4 linked regions of the Homo sapiens genome follow. The protein of the gene in region 1 interacts with the protein of each later gene in a biochemical or structural test. Each region holds a gene or a part of one and is shown on either strand. Other genes may lie near its edges. The genes, in order: OCLN, CTSS, CSNK1E and PRKCH.

Evidence for each region.
Region 2: of the proteins of OCLN (region 1) and CTSS, one has a biochemical effect on the other in vitro, tested with the Homo sapiens proteins (one study listed by IntAct).
Region 3: the proteins of OCLN (region 1) and CSNK1E form a complex in vitro, tested with the Homo sapiens proteins (one study listed by BioGRID and IntAct).
Region 4: the proteins of OCLN (region 1) and PRKCH form a complex in vitro, tested with the Homo sapiens proteins (one study listed by IntAct).

Annotation. Positions count from the first base shown.
Region 1 is NC_000005.10:69,551,790-69,558,637, reverse strand, and holds the end of OCLN (occludin), read right to left. Parts: intron 5,069-6,848; coding exon 4,967-5,068; 3' UTR 534-4,966; downstream 1-533. UniProt on the Homo sapiens protein: May play a role in the formation and regulation of the tight junction (TJ) paracellular permeability barrier.
Region 2 is NC_000001.11:150,729,678-150,734,801, forward strand, and holds the end of CTSS (cathepsin S isoform 1 preproprotein), read right to left. Parts: intron 3,469-5,124; coding exon 3,369-3,468; 3' UTR 511-3,368; downstream 1-510. UniProt on the Homo sapiens protein: Thiol protease. Key protease responsible for the removal of the invariant chain from MHC class II molecules and MHC class II antigen presentation. The bond-specificity of this proteinase is in part similar to the specificities of cathepsin L.
Region 3 is NC_000022.11:38,300,430-38,307,462, forward strand, and holds part of CSNK1E (casein kinase I), read right to left. Parts: intron 2,820-7,033; coding exon 2,709-2,819; intron 2,581-2,708; coding exon 2,432-2,580; intron 524-2,431; coding exon 295-523; intron 1-294. Other genes in the region: TPTEP2-CSNK1E (casein kinase I), read right to left, coding at 295-523, 2,432-2,580, 2,709-2,819.
Region 4 is NC_000014.9:61,324,564-61,331,596, forward strand, and holds part of PRKCH (protein kinase C eta type), read left to right. Parts: intron 1-7,033. UniProt on the Homo sapiens protein: Calcium-independent, phospholipid- and diacylglycerol (DAG)-dependent serine/threonine-protein kinase that is involved in the regulation of cell differentiation in keratinocytes and pre-B cell receptor, mediates regulation of epithelial tight junction integrity and foam cell formation, and is required for glioblastoma proliferation and apoptosis prevention in MCF-7 cells.

The sequences.
Region 1 (6,848 bases):
TGCATAGCAGTGGAAAGAACAGCCCTGGATTTAAAATCAGGCTCTGACACACTGGCTGGGTGACCTCAAGCAAGTCACAACCCAAGTCTATGAACTAATGTGTAAAATGGGGTTGTCTCCACCAACCCTGCAGGGCTTAGTGGGAACTCCATAATCAGTCTCATTTCCTCCCAGAAGACAGGATTTTAAAAGGGAGAGGAGGGGAAATTAGTATCGCAGTGCCAGGAAGCTTCCATGCTTGCCTCCCTCCCACCTTTGACCTCATTAGAGGACTCACACACAAATTCCACACTTTTCCTTTTGTGCCCTTCCTTCCTATCCACACTTTTGCTTCCTTCCATCTTAATTGACCATCCTATTTGCAAGACGGGATGCATTCCTCTAGGACAAACAGCCTAGAGGAATCCCAAGCCCCAAGTTTCTTGCATATGTTTGTTATCCATCAGCCTGGGAAGGCTTTAAGGAAAACCAGGAAAAAGATAGAGGACTCCCCAATAAATATAAAGCATATTTGCGAAGAGAGGAGACTGAAACAGTTTTCCCAACTGTAATATTTGTTCTGTATAGATTTTAGACATGGATGTTAAGATTCAACTAGGAATGGTACTACAGCAAAACAAAATATGCATAAATCCATAATCTCTTGGCATGATTATGACTGACATATTCTAATCATTTACAAAGTGGTAGAATAAATTATCTAACCTACTCAGATGTTTTTTCAACTTGTAAAACTAAAAGACAACTATAAAGAATGGATAATCTGTTCTTTGCCCATGAGTGGCCAGACACAATCAACAGGGTTAGGACATTCACAATCAGCTCAGCCAGTGGAATCAGATATAAAAAGCATGCAACTTGAAAGACTGGGAGAAGTGAACCTGTCTATTCCAATAGACAGGCTCCCTTACAGGGAAACTAAATCATTCCAGAAAGCCTCATCTAAAACCTCTGTAATTGACAACAGTATCTAACAATTGTGATCTTGATAAGTAAACTATTTGCTCTAACCTAAAGAAGCATTTGTTTATCATGTACAAATATTTAGAATGCCAATCCTGCATTCTCTGCCTAGAATTCAAAAGAATTTACATTCTAAGGCTGCACCCAGCACAGATCAATCATATGGGATTGGATGACACATGCACTTTTAAAAAACACAATTTGCTTTTAGAAAACTTGTTAAAGTTTCACCTTCTGGCTTTGGAAGATGGGGGTAGCTAGGCATATTTACTTTTAGACAAGGACTGAGTCACACATTAACTACCTTCTTAACTATGAGATTATTACAAATATATTTTACAAATACAAAAAACTGAAGTACAGAGAGGCTAAGTTAATTTCTCCAAGGTCCCACAGCAAGTAACTGCAGAAGGGCAAAGCAAAAATAGGACAACACATGTAGGCAATACCAAGCAGTTCTTGTGGCAGCAATTGGAAACCTTTTGGAGACACCATTCTGCATTTCGTTGTAGTCATACACAAAACCCTAGTTATGTATCCATGCTTCTTTCTCATAATGCCAAAGTGGCACTATTCTAATTTACTAACAAGGTTTTCTAAAAACTACCCAAATTATTGAGGTGTTTTTGCTCACTTCTTCCCATTAGAATAAATGTAGACAATAAGAAACGCATGAGGGATGACATAGTCCTCCATCAAATCTGTCCTTTCACACAAGAGATGGCATGGTGTAGTGTAGCAGAATCATGAGCTGCCAGGAAATTATGAATTCTGATTCCTCCAGCTGAGTCTTTGAAAAAGTCCAGATGAGAAACACTTCCATCCTGATGCTGAAGCAAGGAGAATGTCCTTGTGTGAGGAATTCTCACAACACCAACTGAAGCTAAGGTCCCCGGAGCCATGATAAAAGCACTTTTCTGCCCTGATTCTTCTTTACACACATGTACCCATTCAGGTCTTTACAGATATTTCACAGGAAGCATTTATGTTACAAGTACTTAAAATGCACTCGAAATTAATATAGGATACTTTATTTACATCAGAGTGATCTCACATTATCCAATCCATTAACAAAGTCAACACAGGATGGAAGTATAGAATCTAACAGTTGAAGAGACTAAGATCCTAATCCCTTGTTTTGCCACTTGCTAGTGTGACAACAGCCAGTTAATCTATCATATCATTAGTTCCTTGTCTATAAAAGAAGAATAAGAAATGGTCACATGTCAAAAGATCGTTGTGAGGATTAAATATCATATATGTACTTATGTGTATGTAACTTATTTACTATAAATACTAGTTGACTTCACTTTATTTCAAAAAATATAAAGCACATATGACAAAACATTAACACATGTTATTTCTGGGCGGATGGTACTTATATTTTATACTTTTCTGTATTTAAATTTTTCAAAATAAAATAATGATCCTATATACTTTTAATACAAAATCACATATGTAGGGCATCACTTTATACGCAGGGAATCTTTACAAAATGAACTATGTGCTATCACAACAAACTCCTTAGAACAATAGTTTATAACAAAGCAGAATTCCAGACAAGAACTACAGGTCAGAAATGGAAGGGATGTCGGAAATCTAATCTAAACCTCTGACTTTCTAGACTAGGAAGCTGCTTGAGTGGCTTTTCAAATTTACATCCAGCTAGTTAATGCCAACGCCAACAGAAACACCCTGATCCTAGTTTCCTAAAACGGTATTTAGTATAAATACACATGAAAATTTTTCTTATTTTTGAAATTTCAAAGTCCAATTTTATAACACAATTTTACAATGCAAATTCTTGCTGTTTCACTTTCTGGATTCAGCTGAATAGTTTTGTGAAAATACTGACAAACTTGCCTTCACGAACTGACTTCCAAGAACAAATTGTTAAAACTTTAACAGAAAAATCAGTTAAAGGTGCTCATCAAGAGAATCCTTTTCATTTGGTATAAATCCAAAACTATGAAAATACCTTTTGTATTATGTGCATGCAGAAAATTAAGAATTTATTCAATTTGCAGAAATAAATCAGTGATATAATGGAAACATTTAAAATTTTATCTCTGGAAAATAATTCAAAATCATCTATCAAAAATTATAGGCCGGGCACAGTGGCTCACGCCTCTAATCCCAGCACTTTGGGAGGCCGAGGTGGATGGATCACCTGAGGTCAGGAGTTCGAGACCAGCCTGACCAACATGGAGAAACCCCATCTCTACTAAAAATACAAAAAAAAAATTAGCCAGGTGTGGTGGCGCATGCCTGTAATCCCAGCTACTCGGGAGGCCGAGGCAGGAGAATTGTTTGAACCTGGGAGGCGGAGGTTGTGGTGAGCTGAGATCGCGACATTGCACTCCAGCCTGTTCAACAAGAGCAAAACTCCATCTCAAAAAAAAAAAAAAAAAAATACACACACACACACACACACACACTTAGGCCAGGCATGGTGGCTCACGCCTGTAATCCCAGCACTTTGGGAGGCCGAGGCAGGCAGACCACAAGGTCAGGAGTTCAAGACCAACCTGGCCACTATGGTAAAACCCCGTCTCTATTAAAAATACAAAAATTAGCCACGCATGGTGATGGGCACCTGTAGTCTCAACTACTCGAGAGGCTGAGGCAGGAGAATTGCTTGAACCCGGGAGGTGGAGGTTGCAGTGAGCCAAGATAGCACCACTGCATTCCAGCCTGGGTGAGAGTGAGACTCTGTCTCAAAAAAAAAAAAAAATTATATACCTAAATATCTGAAATGCATACTAAAGTTCAGTTTATAGATTATTCTAAAAAAAAGTTTTTAGAAAAGTCTAAGCTGGGATGATCACAATCAACTTGGTCAGCACAGTGCTATCAACTAATTTTACTAATAAGAATCTGAATTTTTAAAAAAGTGATACAATTTAAGGGCACCATTTGAAATTATTTGGTATTTCGTGGTATAGCATTCTATTCCCAGACATATCAGCATTCTTACAGCCAAAGGAATGGGAAACGACTAACCAGCACAGCATCCAAAGGAGTATAAACAACAACAGATACAACTCCTGAGTGTGGTTTTCCATTGCTGTATGTTAACAGCACTAATAACATCAAACAGGTTATTATGGAAAGAAAACACCAGGTTTAATACCTTATAAAATATGTATAGAAATTGAACATTCCTGTAAGATACAGTTCAAGTCACAATTGAATTATAAATGTAATCAGATATTCTGATATAATGAAAAGTTCTAGTTGGTTTTTTAAAAAAGGCATGCAAAAAGATAAAAAGTATTTAAAAACACACAAAATTCTAACCACGGGGTTTAAACTTTGATCTTAAAAAAGTAAATATATATTTACAATCTTTAAATTTCACACATTTGTTACTTTTACATGATCTTTATTATTTAAGAAAAACCTCTTTTAACCATTTATATAACAGAAAAAAAATAGGGAGGCTGGTAGATCATCACATATATAGTAGCTAAAATATGAAAGGCCAGGGAATTTATTATTAATGAAGTCATAAAACAGACTTAACCAAAAGTGTGTGCTAGGAAACAAGCAGTTTCACTTCAGAGACTTCATTGCAGGAACCCAGTTTCCTTATGTGGAAAAAAGTGATTATAAATAACAGTTATCTGAAAGGTGGTTGAGAGGATTAAATGAGATCACCTATGCAAACAAATACATGTAGGTATGAAGACATCGTCTGGGGTGTGAAAGTTTAGTTCACACCAGAACCTTCCTTTAAGGCTTAAAAACCTCAAACAGTATTTCATTCTTAATACAAGAACCAATGTTTAAAGCATAAAATCCTTAATTGGAGTGTTCAGCCCAGTTGATTATCAAAAGCGATTTATAAAATGCTTCAATACTGATGATGTTAAAGCAACCAAAACTTTGTGATGCTCACAGAGGTTTGGCTTCCGGGGTTATGGTCCAAAGTCATTTGCCTTCTGAGAAGATTGCAGAGATGTCAGATACTTAATTTCTCAAACAACTTGGCATCAGCCTTCTATGTTTTCTGTCTATCATAGTCTCCAACCATCTTCTTGATGTGTGACAATTTGCTCTTTAACTGCTTGCAATGATTCTTCTTACTTTTGTAATCTGCAGACTAAAAAGGGAGAAAATGAATCACATAAATTCAACAAAATGAAAACAGGTCTGCTGGGAAGGCAGAATTGAACACAGAAATGGAATATTTAGTCAAGAGAATTGCTGGGAGTGTTAATTGAAGTAAAATACGCAAGGTGCCTGGCAGTATCACTAACCACACAGGCAGCTGATTCTATTTGCTCAGTTCTGTCTTCTAACCTGGGTTTTTCCAAAGGATACCCTCATTTCTAAAAATCTGTAAAATGACCAAGAAAACTTACCAGCCTTTTTGCTAACACATCATCTAAAACTGTAAGTAAAACAAGAGACTGGTGATCTCATTTGACTGGGGAAAGGGAAGCTGAATAGGGGATAAGAGAGATGGGAAATTTTACTGTATACCCTTTAAACTCTTATTTCAAATCATGATGCCTGTAATTTATAATTTTTTTTTCTTATTTTAGAAAGGGTCTCATCCTATTGCCCAGGCTGGAGTGAAGTGGTACAATTATAGCTCCCTGCAGCTTTGAACTCCTGGGTTCAAGGGATCCTTTTGCCTCAGTCTCCCTAGTAGCTAGGACTACAGGCATGTAACCACAGCACCTGGATAAGTAATTTACAAAAATTTTAATATAATTTTTTTTTAATGTTTTAAGTCAATAATGACTGTCATGCCAAGTGTTAGCAAGGATATAGGGCAACAGGAGTCTGTAGTGGTTGGTGGGAATGTAAACTGGTACAAGTACTTTGGAAGGCCATTTGACAGTATCTACTAAGGCTGGATAGACAAATGCCCATCACTTCTACGCTCAAACATTTACAAATATGTATGAAGCTGCAATATTTTTAAATGCCAAAAATTGGGAACAACCCAAACGTTCATTGACAATAGAATGGATGAATAAAGTTGCATTTTATATACAACACTACAAAGCAATAAAAATTAATCAACCGGCCAGGCGTGGTGGCTCACGCCTGTAATCCCAGCACTTTCGGAGGCGGAGGCAGGTGGATCACTTGAGGCCAGGAATTTGAGACCTGCCTGGCCAACATGGTAAAACCCCATCTCTACTAAAAATAGGAAAATTAGCCAGGTGTGGTGGTGCTTGCCTGTAATCCCAGTGGCTCGGGAGGCTGAGGCAGGAGAATTGCTTGAACCCAGGAGGCAGAGGTTGCAGTGAGCCGAGATTGTGCCACTGCACTCCAGCCTGGGCGACAGAGCGAGACACTGTCTCAGGAAAAAAAAAAAAATTAATGAACCATGGCCGGGCATGGTGGCTCATGCATGTAATCCCAGCACTTTGTGAGGCCAAGGCAGGGGGATCACCTGAGGTTGGGAGTTCAAGACCAGCCTGGCCAATGTGGTGAAACCATGTCTTTACTAAAAATACAAAAATTAGCCAGGCATGGTGGTGCGTGCTTGCAATCCCAGCTAGGCTGAGGCAGGAGAATTGCTTGAACCTGGGAGGCGGAAGTTGCAGTGAGCTGAGACTGCGCCACTGCACTCCATCCTGGGCAACAGAGCAAGACTCCGTCTAAAAAAAATAATAGTAATGAACTACAAATGGACCCTTACAAACACTATACTGAGCAAAAGAAATCACACACAAAATACATACTGTGTGGTTCCATTTATGTAATGTGCAAGATAGACAAAACTCTATGATGTTAGAAGTGAGCATGATGGACCCCTCTGGAGAGAGTGTAAACACTGGAAAGTAGTACAAGTGAGGGTGGGGGTGCTGGGGGTGGGGAGGTACTGGGAAATATATTTCTTGATCTGCATACGCAGGTATGTG
Region 2 (5,124 bases), on another chromosome or scaffold:
CACTCCAGCCTGGGCACCATTGAGCACTGAGTGAACGAGACTCCGTCTGCAATCCCCGCACCTTGGGAGGCCGAGGTTGGCGGATCACTCGTGGTTAGGGGCTGGAGACCCGCCCGGCCAACACAGCGAAACCCCGTCTCCACCAAAACCAGTCAGGCGTGGTGGCGCGAGGCTGCAATCGCAGGCACTGGTCAGGCTGAGGCAGGAGAATCAGGCAGGGAGGTTGCAGTGAGCCGAGATGGCAGCAGTACAGTCCAGCTTCGGCTCCGCATGAGAGGGAGACCGTGGGGAGAGGGGGAGGGGGAGGGGGAGGGGGAGGGAGAGCAGTTCAGGCATTCTTTACTTGAGAGCCACAACTCTCAAAGTCTCCTTGGATAGAATTCAGGGAATTTATGAATTTGTATGGGTAAAAAATTCCATTTTTATTTTTACTAATGTAGGGGAGAACATATGTTTCCTTCTATCCATCCTAGGTTTAGGGCTGAGATCTCTATAACAAAAGAGAGATTAGCAAGAGAAAAGCATGCACATTTATTTAATATAAGTTTTACACGACACGAGGGGCTCCATAAGGAAATAAAGGCCCAAAGAAACAGTTGAACTTGAATGTTTTTTATAGTAGGTTTGATGAAGAGCAGCCAGTGATGTAGAAATGTCATAGGGCAAAGTGTGAACAAGCTAAATGTAATAAACTGGGGGAAACTGAGAGGCCTGTTTGTTTAGATTCCTCTTTGTGTCCCTGTGCTTTTGGAGGTAAGGATGCTCCTTTTCTCTGGGTGCCAGGAGAGCACCTCTTACATGACAGTCTTATGATCTACTTCAGGGGAAGGTCAGAAAATCCTTCCCAGGTTTTATGGCTGCTTCTGGGGAGAACAGCAGGCAGAAGGTCAGAGTCACCTTCCTGCTTCTGCAATTTCCTCAAATGCCTTCAGCTTAAAATATTCAATATGTCAAAGTGCTGTATTTTGTGTAGGGTGTCCTGAACCCCGTCACTAACCTCTAACTGAAAGTTAGGATTTTCTTCAATTCTGAACATAGTTCATAAACCACGGTAATATTAGCAATACTTCATCATCAAAAGAAAAACCCAGATATTTTCATATCACATTAGTTTTTTGCATCTATTTTCATTATGCTTATCACTATTTCAAATTTAGGATAGCTATTAACTCTTATTTAATGCATTTATAAAGAAGCATGCATATTAATATATAACAAACTTATCTTTTAACATTTTAATAACTGTATTTCGATATAATTAGATTCCTTTGTAATCCTATATATTTTATGCATTTAAAAACATGATTTTAAGAAGGCATTCATAGGCTTTAACAGATAGCTAAAGACTAAGAACCCATGTTTTTATTCTACTTTCAATACTTGAAAAGTTGTGGATAAAACAAAAATTATGTTAAAAACTGAAAAGTAGGCTGGGCTCAGTGGCTCACGCCTGTAATCTTAGCACTTTGGGAGGCTGGGGTGGGTGGATCACCTGAGGTCAGGAGTTTGAGACCAGCCTGGCTAATGTGGCAAAACCCTGTCTTTACTAAAAATACAAAAATTAGCTGGGCGTGGTGGTGCACGCCTATAATTCCAGCTACTCGGGAGGCTGAGGCAGGAGAATCGCTTGAACTCGGGAGGCAGAAGTTGCAGTGAACTGAGATGGTGCCACTGCACTCCAGCCTGGGCAACAGAGTGAGACTCCGTCTCAAAAAACAAAACAAAACTGAAAAGTAATCAACTAAATACTTTTAAACTATAATATTCTATACACTTTTGATGATAGCCATGTATTATGGTATTATTTATGTTTTTATATTTAGCAATTCTTGTTCCTTAAAATGTGCTTTATGGAGAAGGAGCCAGAGTTAGTGAAATACGTTTAGGTTAATTTAGGATATATTAATGACATTATCCCACACATTGTTCATGTCATAGACATGAACTTAAAAAATTTAAAGTTCCTGCTGCCTGCTTAGATGCATCTACTAATCTAGAGCAGTTGTAAGGAAGATCCATCTGAATTAGATAAAAATATGAGCAGTGGAGTATTGGTTATTTTATTCTGGTTGGCTCAGTTATTTGCCAAATAAAGGCCCTGGTCAAATTGTTGATGACTACGTAAAAATAATTTGGACTAATACATTAAATTGTTGATCATTAAAATAATTCTTCCAAAGTGCTTGTCTTTTATGCATTTCTTTACTTTAACATAATATAAAAATATGTGTTGAATCCTCTTTTTTTAAGACAGGGTCTTGCTCTGTCACCCAGGCTGGAGTGCAGTGGTGCAATTACAAGCTCACTGCATTCTCAACCTCCTGGGCTCTTGTGATCCTCCTGTCTTAGACATCTGCATAGCAGGGACCACAGGCACACACCACCACTCCTGGATAGTTTCTTTTTTATTTTTGTGGAGACAAGGTCTCACTATGTTGTCCAGGCTGGTCTTGAACTCCTGGGCTCAAGACGATCCTCCTACTTCAGCCTCCCAAAGTGTTGGGATTACAGGCATGAGCCACTACACGTGGCGTTTTGAATCCTCTTCTGTACAAAGATACAATCTGAGTCCTTAGGACATTTATAGCCTAATATTTTCTTCCATCAAAGTTGCTAAACCCCATCACCAGAATACCACAATTAATATTCTCAGGATAGATTATTAATAGTTGCCTAGGAATAAGAATGGTATGTGGCAATGATAGAAATTTGAAATGGCAGATTTATTAAGTATTTTTAAGCCATCAAGTTACAAAAGGCTATTAGGGGTCTTAAAAAGACAAAGAGTATACAATAAAACAATAAGCAATTACAGATTGTTTTAGGTTGAACAATTTTTGTACAGTTATATCTATAGTACATTACTAATTTACTTAGCAAACTTTATCCTGAGATTTGCAAATTTAAAAAAATGAAGAATCAAACTATATTTTCTTTTCTGTTTTTTTGAAACAGAGTCTCCACTCTGTCATCCAGGCTGGAGTACAGTGGTGTGATCTCAGCTCAACATAGCCTCAACCTCTTGGGTTCAAGGAATCTCGTGCCTCAGCCTCCCAAGTAGCTGGGATTACAGGCATGCACCACCGTGCTCGGCTAATTTTTTGTATTTTTAGTAGAGATGGGGTTTCACCATGTTAGCCAGGCTGCTCTTTAACTCCTGGCCTCAAGTTGATATGCCTGCCTTGGCCTCCCAAGTACTGGGATTACAGGCGTGAGCCACCGTGCCCGGCCTCAAACTATATTTTCTAATTAGTACAGTAAATACACATTAATCATGACACAATTATTTCTTCTGGATACAGCAGGAAAAATTAAGTTAAGAGAAAGTGCTTCATATTTCTTGATTTGTTATAAAAAGGAGAGATCCTCTAGATTTCTGGGTAAGAGGGAAAGCTAGCAATCCCACAATGATTTCCTTTATTTCTTGCCATCCGAATATATCCTTCTTCACCAAAGTTGTGGCCCCAGCTTTAGAAAAAGAAATAATACAAAATTACAAATGCGTACAATCAAACCATGTTATCAACTTTTTATCTCATTGTTTTTCTCCTATAAGTGATTACATATGAAAGGCCGTAAAACAAAATTAGAATGAAATAAGGTAATAATTTCTCCAGGGATTTCAGGTAACTCAAAATAATGGTTTGGAAAGCTTTAGTGCTATATTGATGAATAGACTTAATACCTAAGGAAAACTATAGTAAGATCCATCCCAGTCCTTTAATCCTCCTACTTTGCAAATATGCCTTCTCTAAAGAAAGAGTATTAGTATCCTTTATAAGCCTTTATCTCTAAATTTTTTGATAACAGTATCATGTGTAATGATTTTCTATCAAACTTAAATTCCTCTAGAGAATGTCAATTAAGAAATATTTTTGAGTGACTACTATGAAAAAGGTATAGGGCAGGGAATTCTAAAGCAAACAACAAAAATGCAGCTCTGAAAGAGCTTTTTGATCTAGAAGTGGAGCTGACTTTCTCATAATTAAAGCTATTGAAAAATGAGCCAGGCATGGTGGCTCACACTTGTAATCCAAGTGCTTTGAGAGGCTGAAGTGGGAGGATTGTTTGAGGCCAGAGTTTGAGAGCAGCCTGGGCAAAATAGCAAGTCCCTGATTCTACAAAAAAAATTTTTTTTTAATTAGCCAGGCATGGTGGCATGCACCTGTATTCCTTACCTACTCTGCAGCAGAGGCTACTTGTTAGAGATGTTGCAGAGAAAAATCATGGGTCGGATTAGGGTTCGAGTAGATCAGTGTTTCACTTTTTGATTTAATGGACTTAGAGGAGTTCAAAAAGTTTTTACAGATAGATATACAGTTATCAATTTTAAAATTAGCATGTATGGACATCTTTTTTTTTTTTTTGGAGGTGAAGTTTCGCTCTTGTTGCCCAGACTGGAGTGCAATGGTGCAATCTCAGCTCACCGCAGCCTCCATCTCCTGGGTTCAAGTGATTCTCCTGCCTCAGCCTCCCAAGTAGCTAGGACTGCAGGCATGTGCCACCACGACGGCTAATTTTGTATTTTTAGTAGAGATGGGGTTTCTCCATGTTGGTCAGGCTGGTCTCCAACTCCTGACCTCAAGTGATCTACCCGCCTCAGGCTCCCAAAGAGTTGGGATTACAGGTGTGAGCCACCACGCCCGGCTGTATGGTCATCTTTTTTAAAAAGCATACTATTGGTCGGGCACGGTGGCTCAAGCCTGTAATCCCAGCACTTTGGGAGGCAGAGACGGGCAGATCATTTGAGGTCAGGAGTTCGAGACCAGCCTGATCAACATGGTGAAACCCCGTCTCTACTAAAAATACAAAAACTAGCTGGGCATGGTAGCATGAGCCTGTAGTCCCAGCTACTCGAGAGGCTGAGGTAGGAGAATCGCTTGAACCTGGGAGGCAAGGCAGAGGTTGCAGTAAGCCGAGATTGCGCCTGTGCACTCCAGCCTGGGCAACAGAGTGAGACTGTCTCAAAAAAAGAAAATAAATAAAAACCATACTACTTACTGTCACCATTATGTTGTAAAAGAAAATACATTTTAACACCAAAAGCAAAAAATCCAAAGACATAATCTCTATTTTAAGGATAGTCTTTTGAGTAAATAAATTTATATTAATGAAAAAGTCACC
Region 3 (7,033 bases), on another chromosome or scaffold:
TAAGCAACCCATGTTAAACCTCTGAGCCTGTATCTTCCAGCCTGCACCAACAGGGCGGAGGAGGAAGCAGGGCCAGGGAAGGCGCCCGGCACACACAGCTTGGCTTACGAAGGGGAAGACCCGACTGTGCAAGGACACGGAATAAGCACGAGCTTGGGGGCAGACGGGGTGGGGACTTTCTCACTAGAAAAGAGCCTGGGGGCCTCCATCAGGGTAGGGGGTGAGAGGGCTCCAGAGAGCTGGGCCCCAGCCAGTGGCCCCGGGTGCACACTGCTCCAGGCCTGGCTCCCTCACCAATGCCCAGGTGCGTGTTGATGGAAGCGTAGCGGGCCGTGCCGGTCAGGTTCTTGTTTTCCCGGTAGGGAATGTGCTGGTGGGTGCGGGCGTCCCGGTACTTCTTGGCCAGGCCGAAGTCGATGATGTAGACCAGGTTGCCCTTCTTCCCCAGCCCCATGAGGAAGTTGTCGGGCTTGACGTCCCGGTGGATGAAGTTCTTGGAGTGGATATACTCGATGCGGCTGATCTGGGGAGGAGGGGGGCCATTTGTTCAACAGAGGGGCCCTTGCCTAGCACTCTGGGCCAGGCAGGGGCTGGGGCCACAGAGGTGGAAAGGCAGAGGGAGAAAGGCCTGCCTTCGACCATGAAGGATAACTAAGGGGCAGGCCAGAGAAGGCCTCCTGGAAAATGTGACATCAGGATGAACTCTAAAGGGGGAGTTCACCAAGTTGGCTGTGAGACAGAGAAAGAGAGTATTGCAGGAAAGCTAATGGGAAGATCCAGAAATGAAGAGTCTGCTAGAAAGGCAACTGGTTCCCCATGGAAGGCTTGCCTGCCCGGCCCCACACTCACAGGACTTAGGGAGCCAGAGAGGCAACAGATGTGGGCGAGGGGCAGGCAGGGAACATGGGGGAAGCCTAGACCAGGAAGAGGTGACAGAGGCAGAACACAAAAGACAGGGCTTCCGAAGGATGCCAAACTCAGACAGGCACATGGCCCTCTTTCCTTTGATATTTTTTTTTTTGAGATGGAGTCTCGGTCTGTTGCCCAGGCTGGAGTGCAGTGGCAAAATCTCGGCTCACTGCAACTTCTGCCTTCAGGGTTCAAGTGATTTTCCTGCCTCAGCCTCCCGAATAGCTGGGACTATAGGCACGCGCCACCACACCTGGCTAATTTTTTGTATTTTTAGCAGAGATGGCGTTTCACCATGATGGTCAGACTGGTCTCAAACTCCCGATCTCAGGAGATCCGCCTGCCTCGGCCTCCCAAAGTGCTGGGATTACAGACTTGAGCCACCTTTTCAGTCGAGTTTTTAAAACTCAAACTAATATCCATCCACATGCCGTGGCCTCTGGCTCTGGCCCCAGGTTCAGCACAGCTCAACATCTCCTGCACCTTTCTTGAGTTTCACACCATGAGGGGCTCTGGCGACCCTCTGCTCACACACCTTCAGCCTACATCGCAGGGCTTTTGCAGACCAAGATTAAAACCCCTGTACGAGATCTCCACATTCCATTCCAAGTTCAAAATTCTACAGTTTTGTATTTTTAAGAAGCTTTCCTCCCTATGCTGATGAAGGGCTTAGTACTTAACAACAGCCTGTTAGAGGGGCCTGTTTTGGCAAGGCGCTGAATGGTATCTCACCTAATCCCCTCAACAACCAACAAAGGAGAGACTCTCACATGAGGCCACTGAGGCTCAGAGAGGTTCGGCGTTCACCTACGGTCACTGGTCTGGAACAGGACCAGGTCTGTGTGACCGACCGCAGGCTTTACATTACCCAGGGCAGGCCAGACGTGGTGGATCATGCCTGTGATCCCGTGTTAATTCCCATCTTGGGAGGCCAAGATGGGAAGACTGCTCAAGGCCAGGAGTTTGAGACCAGCCTGGTCAACACAGTGAGACCCCCATCTCTATTTCTTACAATTAAATGATATTTTTGAAATAAATAAATAAAACTACCCCAGGCAGAGTCCCAGGCCCTGACTCGGCAGGTCTGGAGTTGGGCCTGAAATCACATTTTAAATAAACAACTTGGCTGGGCACGGTGGCTCACGCCTGTAATCCCAGCACTTTGAGAGGCTAAGATGGGCGGATCACTTGGTAAAACTCTGTCTCTACTAAAAATACAAAAATTAGCCCAGCGTGGTGGCAGGTGCCTGTAATCCCAGCTACTCATGAGGCTGAGGCAGGAGAATCGCGTGAACCTGGGAGGCGGATGTTGCAACGAGCTGAGATCGCACCACTGCGCTCCAGCCTGGGCGACAGAGTGAGACTCCGCCTCAAAAAATAAATAAACACCTACAATTCTATAGCCAGTGGACAAGGTCCCCTGGCCCAGGCCCATCCTCTGGCATCCTCTGGGGGCAGGAGGCAGGGCTGGTATCCTGGGCCCACAGGCATCTGGCTGGGGATGGAGGGGACGGGGACTCACCATCTGGTCGGCCAAGAGCAGCACCGTCTTGAGGCTGAATTTGCGGGAACAGAAGTTGAACAGGTCCTCGAGGCTAGGCCCCAGCAGCTCCATGACCATCACGTTGTAGTCGCCCTCAGCTCCGCACCACTTGATGGACGGGATCCCCACTGGGGGTCAAGCAGAGGGCCTCTGTCAGGGGTCAGAGGCAGGCAGCCAGCCACGCCCGGCCCACCCTGTGCTCATGGCTGCCCACCGCCACCCACCCGGCGCCCGCCGCCGCCCACCCTGCGCTCACCGCCACCCTGCATCATCTTGTAGAACTTGCTCTCGATGTGCAGCTGGGGGTGCTTTGTCTTCACACACTCCAGCTTGATGGCGACTTCCTCACCAGAGGCGATGTTGGCACCTGCCCGGGGCAGGGAGGCAAGGGACCAGGGTCACCCTCAAAGGCCAGGCAGTCCCAGGCGCCCCACTAAGCATTTCTGAGATCTGGCGTGTGCCGGGCCCGGGGCCATCTGCCCTTGAGGAGCTCTTGGGGGAGGCTGGGAAGGGGGCAAAGGAGCCCCGGCAAAGGGTTCCTGAGGGGAAAGAAGGTCAGCGCTGTGAGGGACAGAGGTGACACACAAGGGCTACCCAGGGCCACAGGTTGGGGCGACAAGAAGGCCCGATGTGAGTGGGGCAAGGGTCAGGTATGCAAAAGGCTCACAGACCACCTAAGGGAGGGGGCTGAGTCCTAGAGCAAATTCAGGCAGTGAGGTCTGTCGGGTTGAGATGGTGGCACGTGCAGAAGAGGCCCAATGGGGCTGGGCTGCCGAACACACCAGAACAAGCCAGGACCACCCTGGCCTACAGGATGAGGATGGGACAGCCGCAGCAACCCCTCAGTCAATGCTGATGCCTTCAGAGGCAGCCCTGCACATTCTAATCCAGTGTCTCATTCGATTCTCAACCCCCTTGTAGAGATGAGAAAACAGAGACCCAGCTAGAGACCCAGCTCAAGGTCACCTGACCTGTAAATGGCGGCCTTGAGATCAACCCCGGCTCTGCTGGCCTCCAGCATAGGTCAGAGGTCCTGCCTGCACCTCCCCGTCTCCCCCAGTCCACTCCTGGCTTCTCAAGGGGCTCTAAGAAAATACCCTCACACACACCAAGGCCCCGCTCTCTGCCTGGGCCCACTGCCCAACTCAAGAAGTCACAAGAAAGACCAAGCCCAAAGTGTACCTTGCCTCAGTTTCCCTGGCTGTATGGGTGGATGAGATGAAGGGCTGGGGCTAGGCTGGGCGACAGGGTGTCTCCTTCCTGGGGCCAGCAGCGAGCCCAGCAGGAGGAGTAGGACAGTGTCGCAACAGGACACAAACAGGCCAGAACAACCCCCAGGGACACAGCCTCAGGAGGAGTTCAAGACAGGAGAAAGGCAGGACCTCACATCAGAGGAAAAGATGAGACTGTTCATTAATAATGTCCCTGAACAACCGGCTGGCCACCTGAGAAAAGACACCATGGCTCACACCACAACCAGGAGAAATCTCAAGTAGAGGAAAAGTTTGTATATAAGAAATAAAGGTGTGGGTGTGAGTTGGCACAGCCCCTGTGCACCTCTTGGGTGAAGCTGAACATAAACAAACGCTCGCCCAAGCAACCCCACTCCTGAGTGTACATCCTTCAGAAACACGTGTGCACCAGGGGGACAGGACAAGGATGGACACAGGAGCAAACAGCCCAAGTGCTCAGCAGCAGAAGAACAGGAACAGTGGCGCAGTCACCAGGGAATCCCAGGCGGCAGTGAAGAGGAAAGGATGCCTGCTTCACACAATGACCCTGGTCCCAGGGGTGCACTCCTCACAGCAGCCAGAGGGTGGAAACAACAAACATCTGTCACAGATGCAAGGATGAATGGAATGCAGTGCCTCCATGCGGCGGAATATTATTCAGCAATAAAGAGGAATAAAGTACCGATACACGCTACGACACGAGTGCACCTTGAAAACATTCTACCCGAGGCCAGGCACAGTGGCTCACGCCCGTAATCCCAATACTTTGGGAGGCTGAGGCGGGTGGATCACAAGGTCAGGAGTCCGAGACCAGCCCAGCCAAGGTGGTGAAACCCTGTCTGTACCAAAAATACAAAAATTAGCCGGGCGCAGTGGCAGGCATCTGTAATCCCAGCTACTTGGGAGGCTGAGGCAGGAGAATCACTTGAACCCAGGAGGCGGAGGTTGCAGTGAGCCGAGATTGTGCCATTGCACGCTAGCCTGGGTGACGGAGTGAAACTCCAGCTCAAAAAAAAAAAAAAAAAAAAAAAAAAGAAGAGTGCAAGCACAGTTCTACTTGTTTCCATATCAAAACAGGCAACAAGACTGGACAATACAGATTTAAACACGAAAGAAAGGAAAAAGATTAAATGTCAGACGGTGGTTCCCAGGGAGGGACACCTTAGGCCATGCAGGTATTCTATACGTATTCTTTGCATCCACTCAACGTTTAATAAGAAATAACAATGAAATGTTAGAAGAAGGGAGAATTGCCTTATAGCCTTGGGGTTAGGCAAAGCTTTTATTTTTATCCCTGATTCAAAATCCTAAAGCCATTTAAAAAAAAAAAAAAAAAGCTCCTTCCTCTCCAAAAAAAAAAGAATCCCTTCTGCATGGCAAAAACACCGGAAATAAAGTCCTAAGAGACATACTCACTTGCAATTCTTATCACAGGCAAAGAGCTAATATGTAATGAGCTCCTACAAATCAGTCAGAAAAAGACTCAGCAGAAAATAGGCCAAAGGATTTGAAACACACACTTCACAGAGAAAGAAATCATTAATAGAAAAGCCTTACTCATAGGGAAAGATGCCCAACCTCCTTGTAAGAGAAATGCAAATTAATATGATCGTGAAAGACCATGTTTCACCTAGGATTGTCAAAAGTCTTACGAGATAACACACCTGTCTGTCGGCAAGACTGTGGGGGCGCTGAGCACTCCTCCCAGGTGGTGGAGGCGTCAACTGCTGAGTCGCCACTGGAGGGGGATTTGACGCTACTCAGCCCTGACCAGCAACCCCGCTTCTGGGAGTTTACCTGACATCCTAGCACGGTGCAAAACAAGGCGGGGACAAGGCTGTCGGCTGCAGGCTGTTTGGAACAGCAGAAGCTTGGAAACAACCCAAATGTCCCTCCTGAGGGGGCTGATTAAATAAAGAATAGCCCATCCATAAAACAGAATACAATGGAAAAAGAACCAGGAAGCTCTCTCTGCACACAAGTGGAAAGATCTCCAAGATACAGGAAGTGAAAAAGCAAAGCACAGAACAGTGTATATTCCACACTCTCATTTCAGTTTTCTTTAAAAAGGTGGGGAACTAAGTATCTGTGTTTGGCTCTAGCTACATAAAGAAACACTGAACAGAAACATGACTGTACAGGGCTAAGTGGGTCAGGGAGGAAGGGGTGGGGGACGCTTCACTGGATACTGTGTTATAAGTTGCAATTTCTTTCAACACCTTTATTGAGATGTAATTCAGATAACTCTCCAATTGAGTCACTCAAAGTGTGCGACTCACCGTTTTTAGTATATTCACAAGCTTGCGCAGCCATTACCACAATCAATTTTAGAACACAGGCCGGGCGCGGTGGCTCACGCCTGTAATCCCAGCACTTTGAGAGGCCGAGGCAGGCGGATCACAAGGTCAAGAGATCAAGACCATCCTGGCCAACATGGTGAAACCCCATCTCCATTAAAAGTACAAAAATTAGCTGGGCGTAGTGGCGCACGCCTGTAATCCCAGCTACTCGGCAGGCTGAGGCAGGAGAATTGCTTGAACCCAGGAGGCAGAGGTTGCAGTGAGCCGAGATTGTGCCACTGCACTCCAGCCTGGCGACAGAGCAAGACTCCATCTCAAAAAAAAAAAAAAAAAAATTAAAAATTAGAACACAGCATCTTCTTATCAGCTGATACCTTCGTATCAGCATCTGCTGTGGGTTCCGCATCTGCCGATTCAACCATGGATCAAAAATACGTGGGGGGAGAAAATAAAAAATAACAACACAACAATAAGAAATAGGTTGGGTGCAGTGATGCACAACTGTAGTACTACCACTTTGGGAGGCTGAGGAGGATTACTTGAGTCCAGCGGTTCGAGACCAGCCTAAGCAACATAGTGAGACCCTATCTCTACAAAAAATACAAATATTAGCCAGGCGTGGTAGCACGTGCCTGTGGTCCCAGCTACCTGGGAGGCTGAGGCAGGAGGACTGCTTGAACCTAGTAAGTCAAGGTTGCGGTGAGCTATGATCACACCACCACACTCCAGCCTGGGTGACAGAGCAAGACCATGTCTCAAAAATAAATAGGTAAATAATATAAAAATTAAAAATACAGTACAATAACTATTTACATAGCATTTACATTGTATTAGGTATTATAAGTGATCTAGAGATGATTTAAAGTATATGGAGAAGGCCAGGTGCCAGCATTTTGGGAGGCTGAGGCAGGCGGATCACCAGGCAAGGAGTTCCAGACCAGCCTGACCACCATGATGAAACCCCATCTCTACTAAAAATACAAAAATTAGCCAAGGTGCTCCCGTGGGAGCGCCTGTAATCCCAGCTCTCAGGAGGCTGAGGTAGGAGA
Region 4 (7,033 bases), on another chromosome or scaffold:
AAATTTGGAAATATATGGAATGCATGCTTTTTTAAAAAAGTATCCTTTATAGGTTCAAAAATGCTTTAAAAAAATAGAGATGGGGTCTTGCTACCTTGTTGACCAGGCTGGTCTTGAACTTGTGGCCTCAAGCCATCCTCCCACTTCAACCTCCCAAAGTGCTGGGATTACAGGTGTGAGCCACTGCATCTGGCCCAAAGGTGCTTTTGAAGTTCAGGATTAAAGAAATACTTATTTATCTTTAGTATTTTAAATTGACATGTAGTTTATTCAGAGAGTTAAATGTGGAATAATTGAATTTACTCCATAATAAATTTATGGTTGCAAGTGGAACTACAGATTACTGACTTAAAAAAAAACTATTGAAGTTGCAGGTTCAAAAAACCCCCAAAACCTAGTGACTTAGTTTTTGCTAGATCCAGAGAAGCTCTTAGCTGTAGGTTATGGATGAGAGGATTCAATATGGTTAAGATCTCAATTCTTCCCAAAGTATTCAATAGGTTCAGTATAATCTCAGTCAAAATCTAAGTTTGTTGTAGAAATTGACAGACTGACTTTAAAATTTATATGGAAATGTAAAGTACTGAGACCAGTCTAAGAATAGTTTTGAAAAAGAACAAGTTGGGGGACTTAGAGTATCTGATTTCAAGGCTAACTGTAACATGACCGTAATCAAGATAATGTGATATTGGAATAAAGAGAGTCATACAGATCAGTGGAATGAATAGAAGAGAGTCTAGGAATAGATCCACACATATATGACCCACTGATTTCTGATAAAGCTGCCAAGAAGGCAACTCAGTGGGGGAAATGATAGTCTTTTCAACTAATGGTGCTTGAACAACTGGATAGCCACATACAGTAATATGAGCCTTGACACTTACCTCACATCCTACAAAGACATTAATTCAAAATGGATTATAGACCTAAATGTAAGAGTTTAACTGTGAAACTTCTATAAGAAAACAAAATTGTAGTGACCTTGGGTTCAGCAAAAAATTTTTAGATAGCGTACAAAAGGCACCAACTATAAAAAAATCAGTAAGTTGGACTTTATCAAAATGAAAAACTATTGCTTCCCAGAGAATGTTTAAGAAAATAAAAACCCAAGCCACAAATGGGGGAAAATAACTGCAATACGTAAATGAAAGATGTGTAACATGAATATATAAAAGAACTCTAACAGCACAATAATAATGAGAAAAATACCTAATTTAAAATCCAACAAATGACTTGTAACTTGTCAAATATTTCAATAGGCACTCACCTTCATGCCAAATAGCACATTAAAAGATGCTCAAAATCATGAGTCATTAAGGAAATGCAAATTAAAACCAAAATGAGATCTCAGTATGTTCCCACTAGAAAGGTTAAAATTAATAAGACTGACCATACCAAGTGTTGGTGAGGAAGTGGAGCACCTGGAACTCTCATATGCTATGGTGAGGAATGTAAAATGGTAAATCATGTTGGAAAATAGTTTGGCAGTTTCTTAAACTATCAAACATATGCCTACTATATAACTTACTGTTTAGTATTTACTAAAAGAAATGAAATCATTCATACAAAAGCTTGTCCACGAGTGTTCATAGCATCTTTATTTGTAATAACCCCCAAAGTGGAAACAACTCAAATGTCAACAGATGAATGTTTAAACAATTGTGGTTTATCCATACAATGGAATATTACTCAGCAATAAAAAAGATGAACTATTACACATGTAACAACAGGAATGAATCTCAGAATAATTATGCTGAGTGAAAGAAACTAGACAAAAAAGTACGGTTTCATTTATGCAAAATTCTAGAAATGAAAAGGAGTCTATAGTGACAGGAAGCAGATCAGTGGGTGCCTAAAAATGGAGAGTGGAGGTAAGGGAGGTGGATTACAAAGGAGGCAGAAACTTTTAGGGGAGATGAATATTTGTGTTATTCTGATTGTGGCAATGATTTCACAGTTATATACATATGTCAAAGCTTATTAAATAGTTCACTTTAAGTATGTGCATGTTACTATATGACAATTATACCTGAATAAAGCTGTGGGGAAAAAAACCAATCAGCGCTTATCCATATTTTACTGAAGGTGTTAAGTAAGATGCTAGTAAATGACAGAATTTCAGCTGAGCCAAGTCTGACTCTTGAAAACTACATTTCCTCTTTAGTGCAGAAAATATTTATGAGAATGGGAGCGTAGAAAAAATGAAATCACAATAAAACAAATTAGTTTCTGATTTTTGGACATGGTCTCATTTTCTAAATTATCACTGTCAGTTTTTTTTCTGCTGCTTCTAGAACATGTTTATTTTGCATAATTTCTCTGGCTTCCAAAATCTGAAGAATTGCCTCTGTTTAAACTCTATTTTCTTCTTTCGTGTACTTGCTCTTGATTTGCTGACCTTCTAAATGGGGACCAGCATCTAATGCTTAATGCAGAGTGCTGGGGACATGGGGAGGCAGGAGGAGCTGGAGGCTGCGTCATGGAAAGACCTTGGCGCCCCCTCAGGAAGGAAGGACTGGCTTGGCAGGATCCCAGGCTGTTTTCCTGGTTCAGCCCTCCCGAAGACATTGTGTTCTCTGCAGCCCTGGAGGGCCTCTTTCTCTCAATTTCTCAGTGAGGTACCTGTTTTGTAATCAGTCCTGTCAGGTGAAGCAGCCATGTTACTACTGGACAATCATGGATTATCTTTTCCCTTCCTTCCTGGATCCAGGTGTCTGAATTTATACCACCAAAATTCTTCCAGATTTTCTATCTAGTGGTTCATTCTCTTTTGTACTTTGTAGTGCCGTTGTTTATTCTCATGATTGATTTTTTTCTGAGCCAATTGGAAGGAATGTCTAACACTGACTGATCAACCCACAGTGTTTAAGAGGAAAAATATATTTTAGAATCTTGAGGGAGTTTTATTTCAGTGTATGTGAATTGTATTGGCTATGTAGCGTCTTCATTTTCATTGTAAGAAGAATTTTGCTACAGTGGGACCGGCTGCTTCTCATCACAAACAGGTTGTGGCTCAGATATTTTCCCCTTTGGAGAGCATTTTCCTGGTCATATTATTATCTTGTTGTCTTTCGTTGCACTCATTGCTCTCTGAGATCATTTTGTTAATGAATTTGCTTATTATACTTTCCTCCTTTAGATTACAAATGGCTTGAGAGCAGGGACCCACCTCTCTTATTCACTGTCCTAACCCTGGGACAATGTCTCATATGTAGTAAACATTAAATATTTGTTAAATGAAATTTTATGTGATTGGGGGACAAGTAAAGTGTAAGTACTTTGGGAGCATCTTTCCATCTTTCTAAAAGAAAGAAATGAAAATAGTTGAGGAGTTACTGGATGAACAGTATTCCTCTGTTAAATCAATCAATGACATACCAATATGTGCTTGAAAGACTGGGCCTGGGCCGGGCGCGGTGGCTCACGCCTGTAATCCCAGCACTTTGGGAGGCCGAGGCGGGTGGATCATGAGGTCAGGAGATCGAGACCATCCTGGCTAACAAGGTGAAACCCCGTCTCTACTAAAAATACAAAAAATTAGCCGGGCGCGGTGGCGGGCGCCTGTAGTCCCAGCTACTCGGGAGGCTGAGGCAGGAGAATGGCGTGAACCCGGGAAGCGGAGCTTGCAGTGAGCCGAGATTGCGCCACTGCGGTCCGCAGTCCGGCCTGGGCAACAGAGCGAGACTCCGTCTCAAAAAAAAAAAAAAAAAAAAAAAAAGAAAGACTGGGCCTGACTGCTATATTCTTTGAATATGGTAATGGATTGAAAACCTTGTGTATGGAAAATTCCCTGCTCTTACGTCATTTTAAAAGACTATGATTTTAAAACTTGTAATACGTTATAACGTTTTTCACTTATAATTTTCACGCCCAAAATGTTAAAGTCAGGGCAGAAGCAAGACATCAGCATTTAAAAGGTTGTGCCTCAGCCTTGGAGAGGAATGAGGTTGGTGGGTGGAACGTGAATCATTTTATCTTATGCAACTCTTAGTGAAGTTTTGGTATCTAGTAAGTGTTAAGAATGGTGATTAGTGGTGATGGTAAAAGTGTGGTGCATTTTTATGAGAAGAGTAGCATTTGCGTAGAATAATAGAGGTGCCTGGGATTTTTGGTAGTCCTTTTTTATTTAATAAAGCAACTGGGGCCGCGTGCTATGGCTTGCGTCTGTAATCCCAGCACTTTGGGAGGCCAAGGCAATAGGATCCCTTGGGCCCAGGAGTTTGAGACCAGCCTAAGTAAAATAGTGAGACCCCATCTCCACAAAAAAATAAAATTAGCCAGGCATGGTAGCACATGCCTCTAGTCCCAGCTACTTGGGAAGCTGAGGTGGGAGGATCACTTGAGCCTGGGAGGTTGAGGCTGCAGTGAGCCATGATCATGTCACTGTACTCTAGCTTAAATGACAGAGCAAAACCCTGTCTCAAAAAAAAAAAAAAGCTGAAAAAACAGTCAACTAGATTGTGTTCCCCTTTTGTGTTGACTTCTTAGCTCCACTTTATTAGAATGTGATAAAAATGAGACCTAAGTGGAAACAATCCCTGTCCATTGTTTTCCACTCTTATCATTACTGTATCCAAAATAGTCTTTCTCAATTGCCAAACCAATAGTCATTTCTTTATTTAAAACTCCTCCTCTGTGGTTCTCCACTGCTCTTAGATAAACTCCTGAGTCTTTTTTTTTTTTTTTTTTTTGAGACAGAATCTCTCTCTGTTGCCCAGGCTGGAGTACAGTGGCACGATCTCGGCTCACTTCAACCTCCGCCTCCCAGGTTCAAGCGATTCTCCTGCCTCAGCCTCTCAGTAGCTGGGATTACAGGCACACACCACCACGCCTGGCTAATTTTTATATTTTTGGTAGAGACAGGGTTTTGCCATGTTGGCCAGGCTGGTCTCAAACTCCTGACTTCAGGTGATCCGCCCGCCTTAGCCTCCCAAAGTGCTGGGATGCAGGCATGAGTCACTGCACCCAGCCAAAGTCCAGAGTCTTTAAAATGGTATAGGATGTTCTCCATGATCTGTACCCTGTGTTCCTCTTGAGCCTTTTCTCTTACATTTCCCCAAATTACAATGAGCATCTTTCAGTTCCTCAAAAGGAGGAACACTTCGCTTTGCTAATTCTTCCTTGTGCTTCAGGTCTCATTATGGGCATTAATTACCCAGACAACTGTCCCTGATGTGCCAGTCTGGGTTTGGTCCTCCTCCTAGTGTTCCCTCAGTATCCTGAGATCTCTTTTGCCGCTGTCTCCTCCAACCTGAAAGAACGGACGTATGAATGGATTGGCCTCTAATGGAAGCGTGTGACACTGGTCACAGGGAGTTCAGGGTGTAGTTGTTTGAATGATTGACTAAGATTCATCCGCTTGGCTCTTGTAGTAGTGACTCTGACAGACTATTACATGTTTCTATTTGAAATGCCAAGCCCTAGGTGAGCATCCAGCCACCAATGAGCATGTACTAAGTACCAGGCATTGTGCTCTATCCTGTAAAGTCAAGTGGACAGGACACACATGACCCATTCTTTCGTAGGGCTTGTAATTCCAAGGGGGAGGGAGATTGGGATAAAAAGCAAACAAAAGCAACTAGGGAATTACAGAAGTACTTACAGGCAGGTAAGCCCCTGGTTTGGGGAGGTGGGGAACATCTTCCTGGAGGAAAAACAAAGAGCTGACTTTTAAGGACCCAGCCTAGAGAGCCACAGCCTGCTTCAGTTAAATGACTGTGAACAGTCTTTGCTCAAAAGAAGAAAAGGAACTTCTGACCTGATAATGTTTCCCAGAGGGACATCGCAGATGCCCTTTTGAAAGGTAAATGTTCCTGACCCACAGAAATGTTTCCATCTTTGGAAAGTTTGGGAGGGAACTGTTTCCATGCTTGTGAACAGATGACCTGCAAAAGAACTTTTGACTCCACAAAGGCAGAAAGTAGGAACACTATATTTGAACCATCAAATACCTTAAGTTTTGTATAGATCATAAAATAATCATAGATGTTGAAGCAGGATGATCATCTAATTCAGAACAACAACAAAAAGCCTGATAGCTCTTAGGCCTGCAGACAGCCTGTAGGTCTATTCATTTGGCACAGATGTTTTTAACATTGAAACTGAAGGCATTTAGTGCTGTGGTGCTCCAGTTTGCCACAGACCCCTCCACTCCCTGTTATGAAACCAACTCTCTTGACTCATTACTTGCTTGGACCTGGGACATTTTAAATTTTGTGACACTATAGCTCAAGCCTTTGTTTTCTGAATGTGGGAACCAAAGTTCCAGCCAAATCATTACTGTTGCCCTAACAGGGGTGTCCAATCTTTTGGCTTCCCTGGGCCACGTTGGAAGAAGAATTGTTTTGGGTCACACATAAAATACGCTAACACTAACGATAGCTGATGAGCTCAAAAAAAATCCTCAAAAAAATCTCATAATGTTTTAAGAAAGTTTACGAATCTGTGTTGGGCTGCATTCAAAGCTGTCCTGAGCTGCATGCAGCCTATGGGCTGTGGGTTGAACAAGCTTGCCCTAACTCATGAGAAGTGTAATATACATACATTTAATATGTATTAATATCTATCTAATCTATATCTACAAAAATACAGATATACTTACTTAGATTTATTTAGATATGTAATAATTTATTAATTTATAAAATGCATTAGTTTAGATATATATTTACTTAGATTTTTACTTACATAAAGATTTGTGTCCTAGTATTTCAGAGAAAGCTAGCTTACTAGTAAATATATGGGGAGTTAACTTTTACTGCAAATTAGTATTATATTAACTATCCAATTTAAAAAGAAAGCAAACTCTGCCAGGCTGGTATGGTGGTGTGCACCTGTAGTCCCGTGTACTGGGGAGGCTGAGGCAGGAGGATTGCTTGAGCCTAGGAGTTCAAGGCTGCAGTGAGAGCTATGATCGAGCTGCTGCTCCTCAGCCTGGGCAACAGAGTGAGACTTTGTCTCAAAAAAAGAAACAACAACAACAACAAAAAAACCCCTCTTTTTATTTCGTTATACAACTCCCAGCAATAGGGGAACA